3 linked regions of the Homo sapiens genome follow. The protein of the gene in region 1 interacts with the protein of each later gene in a pairwise test. Each region holds a gene or a part of one and is shown on either strand. Other genes may lie near its edges.

Region 1 (3,500 bases):
ATGTCCTGTAGGCACCACAGGGAATATTAGACTTCCTGCATCTCTTCCAAGCATCCTGTAGCTTTTCTCTCATTTTTTCCTCCCTCCTGTTTTTCTTCTGGGAGGTGTTATCTGTCTTACAGGTTTCTCTGTTATTCAGTTCCCTTGTTAAAAAGTGTTGATTTTGGCCACCATATTTGTTCATTTCCAGGAACTCTGCTTTGTGTCTGATTGATCCTTCCTGTGTGGTGGATGTCATTAGCACCGACACTGATAAGACTTCCCTTCCACCTTTCCTTTCATCCGGTCTGTGTGTAAACTCAGCAGAGGCAGGCGTGGGGAGCCCCAGAAATGCACCGGCTCTGGGCTGGGCTCTGGCAGATTCATATGAATGGGAGAGTCTCTGTCTGGCCAGCCCTTCTGTTTTGTTTTGTTTTGTTTTGTTTTGTTTTGTTTTGTGACTGAGTCTCGCTCTGTCACCCAGGCTGGAATGTGTTGGTGTGATCTCAGCTCACTGAAACCTCTGCCTCCCGGGTTCAAGCGATCCTGGTGGCTCAGCCTCCTGAATAGCTGGGATTATAGGCGTGCGCCACCACGCCCGGCTAATTTTTGTATTTTCAGTAGAGACAGGGTTTTGCCATGTTGGCCAGGCTGGTCTCAAACTCCTAACCTCAAGTGATCCTCCCGCCTTGGCTTCCCAAAGTGCTGGGATTACAGGCAAGAGCCCCCGCGCCCAGCCCCTTCTGTTTTTAAGAAAGATAAACCCCTAACCTCTGAAGAGCTTTTGCAGTGACATGGGCATGGACACCACCAGGTCTCGCTGTGATGAGGTGGGTGGAGGCTTCTCCCTTCCTCCTCCGCCCTTTCTTCCCTGCCTCCTGCTCCTCCTCGGCCCCTCCCTTTTGCTGTGATTCCCCACAGCCCTTTTCAGTTCAGCCAGGATCTGAATGGCCCCTGTCCAGGGCTGGGTACAGTGGGGCCAGCAGTCACACAGCCGTGTATCCAGCTGTTGCCACCTGCCAGTCACACCACCACTGTGAGCAGGTACTGCCATTAGCCCCATGGCACATGTGGGGAAACTGAGGCACGGGATGGTTGGCTAATCTGCCCAAGGTCACAGAGCCAGTGAGTGGCGGGGCCGAGATTCAAACCCAGGCAGTGTGAAGTTCATGAAGGGAAAAGCTGAACTTGCTGGAACCCCTTCAGACTCCACGCTCCTGGCCTGGCTGAAGGACCCTGCTGACTCTCTCCCCCAGCTCACCCCTCCGGGGGCTGCCGTCCTGGCTGTGACCTGGGCCTGGTGTGCCTTCACAGCCCACTCCTGCTGTTGAACTCCCCCTCTTCCCTCAGGCTCAGCACAGTCGGGGTGCTTCCTAGGGGTGGGAGTGCACCCTCGCAGCACACCTGCCTCCCTCTTGGCAGTCGCTGTGAGCATAGTGAAGCCGGCCATTGCACCTTTGCCCATTCCCCGGGTGAAACGCCAGCTCCAGCAGGGCAGGGACTGAGTCTGTGGCCCACTGTGGCTGGCATTCAGGCAACGTGGCCTGCGTTGACCCTCAGGTTGGCTGCACTTGCCTGCAGGGGAAAATGCCCCCTCTGCAGCCCACTCTGAGGGCCCCTTCCCTTCCCCGCCTCTCACCCCTGCCTTGGCACATGCCCTTTGCTTGGAATACCTGCCACCTCCGGCCCCCTCCTGGAGGGCAGGCTCTGCACTGCACTGCCCGGGCCCCTTGCACTCAGTCTCCCAGCCCTTCCCAGATTGTCAGTTGGCATCATTTGGGCACCTGTCAACCCTGCCAGGCAAGGTAGGTGAGCTCCTGGAGGACACTAGGAAATGTCTGTGGCATGAATGAGGGAGGGACATAAAGGAGCCCTTAGCGAGTGGGGACACAGACGTGTTCCACCAGAGTGCAGCCTGGCCCTGCCTCTGGGAGCTTTGCTGTGGACACAGACGTGTTCCCTCAGAGTGCAGCCTGGGCCCTGCCTCCAGGAGCTTCGCTGTGGGAGGAGGTGACACGGGAGCCGCAGCTACCAGGCAGCGAGCTCTCGCCCGGGCTGTTCTAGGTGCTGGCTACAGGAGCCCACAGAACAGACCCCCTTCCTTCCTGGGGTTCTCCTCCAGCCAAGGGCTTCATCCCTCATTGGCTGGGGCCGTCTCCTTGTTTGACAGATGTGGAGGCTGTGAATGCAATAAGTAAGGCTCCCGGAACTGCCTTGAAGTACTCAGGTTGCCTTTACCAACCCTTACTCCTTGTGAGGATCCTGGAGGTAGCTGCCATTAATATTCCCCTCCTTTGGGCTGGACGCAGTGGCTCACACCTGTAGTCCCAGCTACTTGGGAGGCAGAGGTAGGAGGATCACCTGAACCCAGGAGGTAGAGGCTGCAGTGAGCCAAGATCGTGCCATTGCACTCCAGCCTGGGTGACAGAATGAGACCCTATCTCAAAAACAAACAAAATGACCCTCTTTTTTACATGAGGAAACTGAGGCACAGGTATTCAGCCATTGGCCCAGGTCCCACACTGGTAAGTGCTGGGGCGGATCTGGACCCAGGCGGTGGCTCTGCACCTGCGCCGCTGGTAGTGCTGCCATGAAGGACCCACGGGCAGGGGTCTCTTCCCACTCTGTCTCTCACACACACCTGCCCGTCTCCTGCAGTCATCGGCCCCTTCCATGAGCCTCTGCTGTGTGGCCGGCCCTGCTGTGCCTGAGGACACTGGAGGAAAGCAGATGGTGACACCAGAGGGAGACAGTGCAACAGGAAGCCGTGTCGTTGTCACCCATGAGGGCGAGGCCTGGCAAGGGGCCAGGCAGAGGAAGGGCCACCTTGGCTTCAGATATGGGCGACCTCAGCTCAGGCCCCCCCGCCATTCCCAGCGCTCCTCACCTCCGTGAGGCCCTCAACAGCCATGGCTGTCACCCCACCCACCCTCCTATCTGGACCTGCTGGGGTGTGAAAGACAGTCCCGTGCTGAGGGTGCCTTGGATGGGTTCTTCTTAACCTCAGAGCCCCTGTTTCCACCTGGAATTACAGCCTTCTGTGAGGCTGGAAAGGTAAAACAAGAAGGCTGTAGAAAACGCCTGCCACACAGTATGCCGGTCCTGGAATAACATTTTGTTGTGACATTGATGAGGAAAAAATAATGATTCCCGGGACCATTGTCTGGGTGGTGGTTGTGGGTTCTCCCTGTGCTGGTGCAAGTTCCTCTGGGCTCTCCTTTCCTTGTGCATCCTTGGGATGTGTCCGCTGGGTGAGCTCCCGGGTCTCCGTGGGCCCAGTGTGAGTGAGTGTGGGCCCGTGTGCGCCCTGTGATGGGATGGCGTTCTGTCCAGGGTCCATTCCTGCTTTTGGCCCTGCCAGGACGGGCTCTGGCCACCCAGGACCCTGAGCTGGAGGAAGCGAGTAAATGTCTTACTGGTTTTTTGTTTTTTATTTATTTTTTAAGACAGGGTCAGGGCCGGGCGCGGTGGCTCACGCCTATAATCCCAGCACTTTGGGAGGCCGAGGTGGGTGAATCACG
Region 2 (3,500 bases), on another chromosome or scaffold:
GAGCCACACAATCACACTGTCAGTTGGCAGGCCTCTGGTGGAAGCACACAGCAAAAACTCTCTAAGGAAAGACTGGTTCATGTGTTATGCCCGACATACTTTTTTTTTTTTTTTTTTGAGACGGAGTCTCACGCCAGGCTGGAGTGCAGTGGCATGATCTCGGCTCACTGCAACCTCCGCCTCCCAGATTCAAGCAATTCTCCTGCCTCAACCTCCCGAGTAGCTGGGACTACAGACGCGAGCCACCACGCCCAGCTAATTTTTGTATTTTTAGTAGAGACGGGGTTTCACCATGTTGGCCAGGGTGGTCTCAATCTCTTGACCTCATGATCCACCCACCTTGGCCTCCCAAAGTGCTGGGATTATGGCCATGAGTCACTGCGCCCAGCCTTTATTTTTTTTTCTGAGACCAGGTCTTGCTCTGTCACCCAGGTTGCAGTGTGAGGTACAATCACAGATCACTGCAGCCTTGACGTCCCAGGTCCAAGTGATCCTCCCGCCTCGGCCTCCCAAGTAGCTGGGAGTACAAGCGCACACCACCACACCTGGCTAACTTTTTTATTTTCATTTTTGTAGAGATAGGAATTCCCTATGTTGCCCAAGCTGTATCATACTTGATTATTTCAGAGATTCATCAGCACTTAAGAAAAAAAGAAAAAAAAAAAGAAAATCAGACCTTTCCATTTCATTTGCATAAAGAACTTACTAGAAACTCTTCAGAAACACATCTTGTAGTAAAGTAGGTGTGTGAGCTGAAAAGAAAGGAAGCTTTTCAATTCTAAAGTATCAGTTCAAATCCACCCTGGAGTTGGGCTAATAACACTAACAGCACGGGTTCCCAAACTGTGTACCTAGGCTTCCCACACACTACGCAGAGAGGCACCAAGAGATATTTTAAATTTATGAGGGAAACAGCAATGCTTGTGGTGTAGGAACCCCACACAAGGTATTCACAGTGTCAACATCAGATCAGGGCTCCACTTCTTTCGATGACATCATTATCGTCGCAAAACAGGGTGGCTGCTCTGATAAAAAGCAAGTACCACCAAAAAGAAGAAGAAAAAAAAAAAACCAAAGGGAGAAGCAGCGTCCAATCCGACCTTCAGGTGAGAGGTGCCACAGAGCTCCCGCAGGGCCTGCCCCCCACGTAGCACACTGCTGCAATTAGGAAGAATGATGAAAATATTTTTTTCTTCCAACTTATATATATTTTTTTTCAAACAGCTCTTGTTAGGACATAATATTTAATAAATTACTGGAATCTAACTACTTAATAAATGGAATTTTTAAGTATTCCTTTTAGCCTAGAGATGCCATGAAAAAAATTACCGAGACACTAAAAGCATTGTGAACAGAGAAAATTGAGGAACCTCTCCTTAGTAACTTTTTTTGCACACTGACTATAATCCTGACACTCTCCTGAGTGCTTTACACACCCTTCTCAACCCGATGGGGTTGGTACTGTACCCGTTTCACAGCTAAGGGTCTGTGAAATTATGTAAGAACCGAGGTCATGCGTACAAGATGGAATGGTTTGTAACCATGCTCGGGTAGAAATGACATAGTAAGTTAAGCACATTTGTTGGTGCCTTTAGTCCCCGCCTCCAAATACATACTCTCTGCAACAACTGCGATTTCCTAAGAAGAATGTTTCTCCTACTTTTCAATCTTTGGTTCAACATTGCCTTGAGAATTCAATATGAAACAAAATCTGCATTTATAACATATTCACCCATTTAAACAGACATTTCAAGTGACTTTTCTGGTAGTAAAACTAGTGATGGTTAAATCGCAAGCACCACATTTTCAGGTTTAGTAGAAAATTTCAATGTGCAAATTTAAAAACTTTAACCTGGCTGGGCGCGGTGGCTCATGCCTATAATCCCAGCACTTTGGGAGGCTGAGGCGGGCAGATCACAAGGTCAGATCAAGACCATCCTGGCTGACACGGTGAAACCCCGTCTCTACTAAAAATACAAAAAATTAGCCAGGCGTGGTGGCGGGCGCCTGTAGTCCCAGCTACTCGGAAGGCTGAGGCAGGAGAATGGCGTGAACCCGGGAGGCGGAGCTTGCAGTTAGCCAAGATCACACCACTGCACTCCAGCCTGGGCAACAAAGCAAGACTCCGTCTCAAAAAATAAAAATTAAAATTAAAAAAATTTTAACCTACAGGGGAAAATCCCAAAGTCCAACCAGACACGAAGCTCTACATATCTGCTCATTTCTGTTGCCTGTTTTCCCCTTTAAAAGTTTCTAATATCAGACCTGGAACCCCAAATACAGAAACTCAGAAAAATGAAACAGGCAACAGATGTGACTAATGAGAACAGATCACCTAGAGGGAGGGTACTATTATTGTTCAGAGAAATTCAATTCCAAGCTAATAACAGGTATGTGCTATTGTAGGTATGAGGACAGTCAACAAAGAAAAGCCACAAATCACTGGAATTACATTAACTTTGTCACTAACTGAATGAGATGGCTGGAAAAGGAACGTGTCTTTCCTAATACACCCTTGGAACAGAAACCCAAGTCTATTTCAAAACAGAAAACTGACCCTGTGGCTGAAAAACAAATCTACGCTAAAATTTAAATTTAGACCAAATGGATCTGCTGGATTTGTTTCAGTTACGCCAGGCATTTTTCATGATTAATAAAATATACTACAAGTTTTCCTATTGCTATGATTCGGTCATTCATCACCCAACCCCGTCAAAGCATTAGTTCCACTAACTGTTCAGCTCCCATCCCTGCACATTTCACATACACTCTTCAGTATTTACAAGCTGTAACTAGTTCTGAGTTTAAGAAGGCCCCTACTGTGCTAGTCCCTCTTCACAGGAGCCCGTTAGGCAGGAGGTTTAATTATGGGCTAAAGTCTATTAAAACATTTAGGGCCAGGTGCGGGGGCTCACGCCTGTAATCCCAGCACTTTGGGAGGCCGAGGCGGGCAGGTCACCTGAGGTCAGGAGTTCTAGACCTGCCTGGCCAACAAGGTGAAACTGTGTCTCTATTAAAATACAAAAATTAGGTGGGCATGGTGGTGTACGCCTGTAATCCCAGCTACTTGGGAGGCTGAGGCAGGAGAATCGACTGAACCCGGGAGGCAGAAGTTGCAGTGAGCCGAGATCGCGCCACTGCACTCCAGCCTGGGCAAGAGAACAAGACTCTGTCTCAGACAGAAAAAAAAAAAAAAAATTTGGAGAGCTTCAAAATATTATTAAAATAATTCAGGCCAGGTGAGGTGGGTCATACCTGTAGTGCTGGCTACTTGGCAGGCTAAGGGAGGGGTCACTTGAGCCCAGCAAGGCTGCAGTCGGCTATGACCATGCCACTGCACTCTAGCCTAGGTGACAGAGCGAGACCCCATCTCTAAAAAAATAATAATAATAAAATGAAGTGAAATAATCAGCTAGGTTTTAAAGTAATAATCTATTCTAATTACCCTTAATCTTTGGGAACTTTTCATTCTTCTATCCCTACATATACACAGTTTTTAA
Region 3 (3,500 bases), on another chromosome or scaffold:
GAAAGCCAAGGACTACATTTCCCATTTTTACTTCCTAGTCTCCTACCTAACAGGAATTGACCTCAAAGATGAAAGTTCATTTCAGTTACTCAGAAACCTAGGAAGATCCAGAGAAAACTTACCCTCTGGGTATTTGTTAATGGTAAACATGACTAAACTCTTATTCCTGTGACAGTATAGTTCCACACTGATGAATATTTACATAGTCTACTGGAGTCTATTTCTTTTTATCTCCTCTTCTCATCTCCTCATTCTTTTTTCTTTTTTTATCTAATTCAATTTTTATAAACATGATGTAGGCATGCAAATATATCCCCAAAATAATTTTGGTGGGTTTATTATCTAATTTCAGATTTATCAATTGAGACCTGCCTTCTAGTTATATTTGATTTTGCCTTTTTGGGTGATATTTTAGTAAATCTTTTAAATTGTGTTAGCATAGTTTTGAAGAATTACATTGTTATTCTATGATGACTTCATGCTGCTTTAAAGAGGTTCATGAGGCTGGGTGCAGTGGCTCATGCCTTTAATCCCAGCACTTTGGGAGGCTGAGGTGGGCAGATCACTTGAGGTCAGGAGTTCGTGACCAGCCTGGCTAACATGGTGAAACCTTGCCTCTGTTAAAAATACAAAAATTAGCCGGGTGTGGTGGCGCGAACCTGTAATCCCAGGTACTTGGGAGGCTGAGGCACGAGAATTGCTTGAACCTGGGAGGCGGAGGTTGCAGTGAGCTGAGATCACACCACTGCACTCCACCCTGGGCAACAGAGTGATACTCTGTCCCCAGAAAAAAAAGCTTTATGAACTTGACATTCATGAATGTAGTAATTAACTTCAAGCAAATAATGGTGGCTAAGTCAATGGAGAATTTATCATTTTTTCTCAGTTCTAATTAATAGGAGTAATGATCATTGTTAGTGTGTTTAGGACTGAAAAGATAGAAAGCCTGTATGTTAAATTTGGGGAGACTTTTCAGAATGAGAAGCTGTGAACATTGGCAAATGCATCTTGGCAAAATTCCAACCTGTACTTTCAGTTGGAAATAGTTCTCTTTGCTCTGAATACTGAACTATTCAATGTTGTGGCTTATTGAATTCCTTACTAGACAATAGTGAATTTCATTGCTTTCGAAGCACTTTTGGGTATATGAAGTTTGGAAGGCTCTTCGTAATTCTTTGCATGAAATCGTTCATCAGTAAGGCATGAGATTTTCTTTTTAAATTTTGTGCCCTTGGGTAACATTACTGTGACTAAATTTTGGACTTTTTTGGCCACAAATGATGGCAAACATTTCTATCTTAGGGTAATGAAAACAAGATAATGTTGGTTGCTGAAAAAGTGAAATTACAATACTTGTACTTTTATCATTTTTTAAGATTCCCTCGTTATGCCACGACCAGATAAGAATCACCAGTGGGTATTCAATAAGAACTGTTTCCCTCTTGTGGATGTAGTGATTGATCCTTACCTTGTATATCATCTTCGACCACATCAGAAAGAAGGAATCATATTCCTTTATGAATGTGTAATGGGAATGAGGTAGGAAAATAAATCATTTGTTTAATCTAATCTGAATTTTGATTTAACCTGTAACACAATAATGGTTTTCTAAGAAGATCCTAATATAATGAGTCCTGAGGGTACACTATGAATTTCAATTGGTAGGAAAGGTGAATAGTGCTTACTGTGTGCATTTATTCCAAAAGTGGTTCTTGATAGATGCCACGTGCCAAACATACTGCTAGGAGGTGGGCATATGGGAATCAGGACCACGGTCCTTACTTTTAAGTGGCTTTTAAAGTATTTGAGTAAACAGATAAATGCAATTGACCTTAATGTGGTATAATAAAAGCTTACCGACTGCTAGTGTGGTAAAGGGTCATAAGAGCAAGTGAAAGAGGCTTTTAATTCTGGTTATAAGAATTTTTTTTTTTTTTTGGAGACGGAGTCTTACTATGTTGCCCAGACTGGAGTGCAATGGCGTTATCTTGGCTCACTGCAATCTCCATCTCCCAAGTTCAAGTGATTCTTGCATCTCAGCCTCCTGAGTAGCTAGGATTACAGGCGTGCTCCACCATGCCTGGCTAATTTTTGTATTTTTAGTAGAGACGGGGTTTCACCATGTTGGCCAGGCTGGTCTTGAACTCTTGACCTCAAGAGATCCACCCACCTCAGCCTCCCAAAGTGCTAGGATTACAGGCATGAGCCACTGCACCTGGTTATGAGAATTTTGGAAAAAGATTTTCTTCTGTCTCTACATCTGAAAATAGAAAAAAGTTTCTTCTTCCTTTTTGCATTTTCTGATTAAAGAATAGTAGTATCTTAAAGATATTTTAGAGGACACAAAAAAACAGGAGAAAAAAAGAATCAAAGGCCCCTGCTAACATTTCTTCCAGTCTTTTTTGTTTATTTGTTTTGGTTTTGTTTTGCCTTGTTTTTAAATGCCAAGACCCTTGATTTTAAAATTTGTCCTTTAAAGGTAGTTGGAAATGAAATTCTCCCCAACTCTAAGAACTCCTTGAATGATGACAAGTTAAGGGAATACTGTCTTCCAGAAACTGTTAACTAGACTCATATTTCCTCCCAAATCTGCTTTTTCTTTCGAAGGTCTTATCTCAGTTGGTCTGTGAATCATCTTTGATTTCTTCTCTCTCACATTCTGAATCTAGTCAAACCTGAACTTTTAATTATTTTAACCTCCTAAATATTGTTTCCTAATCTTTTCTGTCATTCCACTGCAGCATCTCTAGTAACCGATGTCATAAAAATATCATATTTTATCTAGACTATTGCAATGGCTTCTAACCTGTATATTTGCTTCTGATGCTTCTCAAATAATGTATTCTACTTAAAGCCACCATCTTGAGTTTTCTGAAAAACAGTTCTGAACATGGCATTCCCTTATTTAAAATCATTCAGAGACTCTCAGAACTTAGAACAGTGTTTCCCAAACTGTGATCCCTACTCCACTGGCAGTATATGGGACCATTTTGAGGTGGCAAGTGGACAAGCCTTTAAAAAAATTTGAATAGTAGCATATTTAGTTAATTATTGGAAAAATAGGCTGGGCATGGTGGCTTACACCTGTAATCCCAGCATTTTCGGAGGCCAAGGCAGGCGGATCACTTGAGGTCAGGAGTTCAAGACTAGCCTGGCTAACATGGTGAAATCCCGTCTCTACTAAAAATACAAAAATTAGCTGGGTGTGGTGGCAGGCACCTATAATCCTAGCTACTCAGGAGGCTGAGGCAGGAGAATCACTTGAATCCAGGAGGCGGAGGTTGCAGTGAGCCAAGATAGCGCCACTGCACTCCAGCCTGGATGACAGAGCAAGACTCCGTCTGGAGAGGAAAAAAAAAAAAAAGAAAAATAGCACATTAAACTTTTGGTTTCACAGATAAATTATGCTTAGAAAGAGTTTTCTTTTCAAATTTAAGTTAAAATGATTTGAAGAAAAATCATAAATAACATATAGTATCACAGATATGACAACAAATCGT

The links. The genes of interacting proteins can lie anywhere in the genome.
Region 2: the proteins of TRAPPC6A (region 1) and TRAPPC10 interact in a two-hybrid assay, tested with the Homo sapiens proteins (one study listed by BioGRID).
Region 3: the proteins of TRAPPC6A (region 1) and RAD54B interact in a two-hybrid assay, tested with the Homo sapiens proteins (one large-scale study listed by BioGRID and IntAct).

Annotation. Positions count from the first base shown.
Region 1 is NC_000019.10:45,168,238-45,171,737, reverse strand, and holds part of TRAPPC6A (trafficking protein particle complex subunit 6A), read left to right. Parts: intron 1-3,500. UniProt on the Homo sapiens protein: May play a role in vesicular transport during the biogenesis of melanosomes.
Region 2 is NC_000021.9:44,015,309-44,018,808, reverse strand, and holds part of TRAPPC10 (trafficking protein particle complex subunit 10), read right to left. Parts: intron 1-3,500. UniProt on the Homo sapiens protein: Specific subunit of the TRAPP (transport protein particle) II complex, a highly conserved vesicle tethering complex that functions in late Golgi trafficking as a membrane tether.
Region 3 is NC_000008.11:94,402,116-94,405,615, reverse strand, and holds part of RAD54B (DNA repair and recombination protein RAD54B), read left to right. Parts: intron 1-1,376; coding exon 1,377-1,539; intron 1,540-3,500. UniProt on the Homo sapiens protein: Involved in DNA repair and mitotic recombination. May play an active role in recombination processes in concert with other members of the RAD52 epistasis group.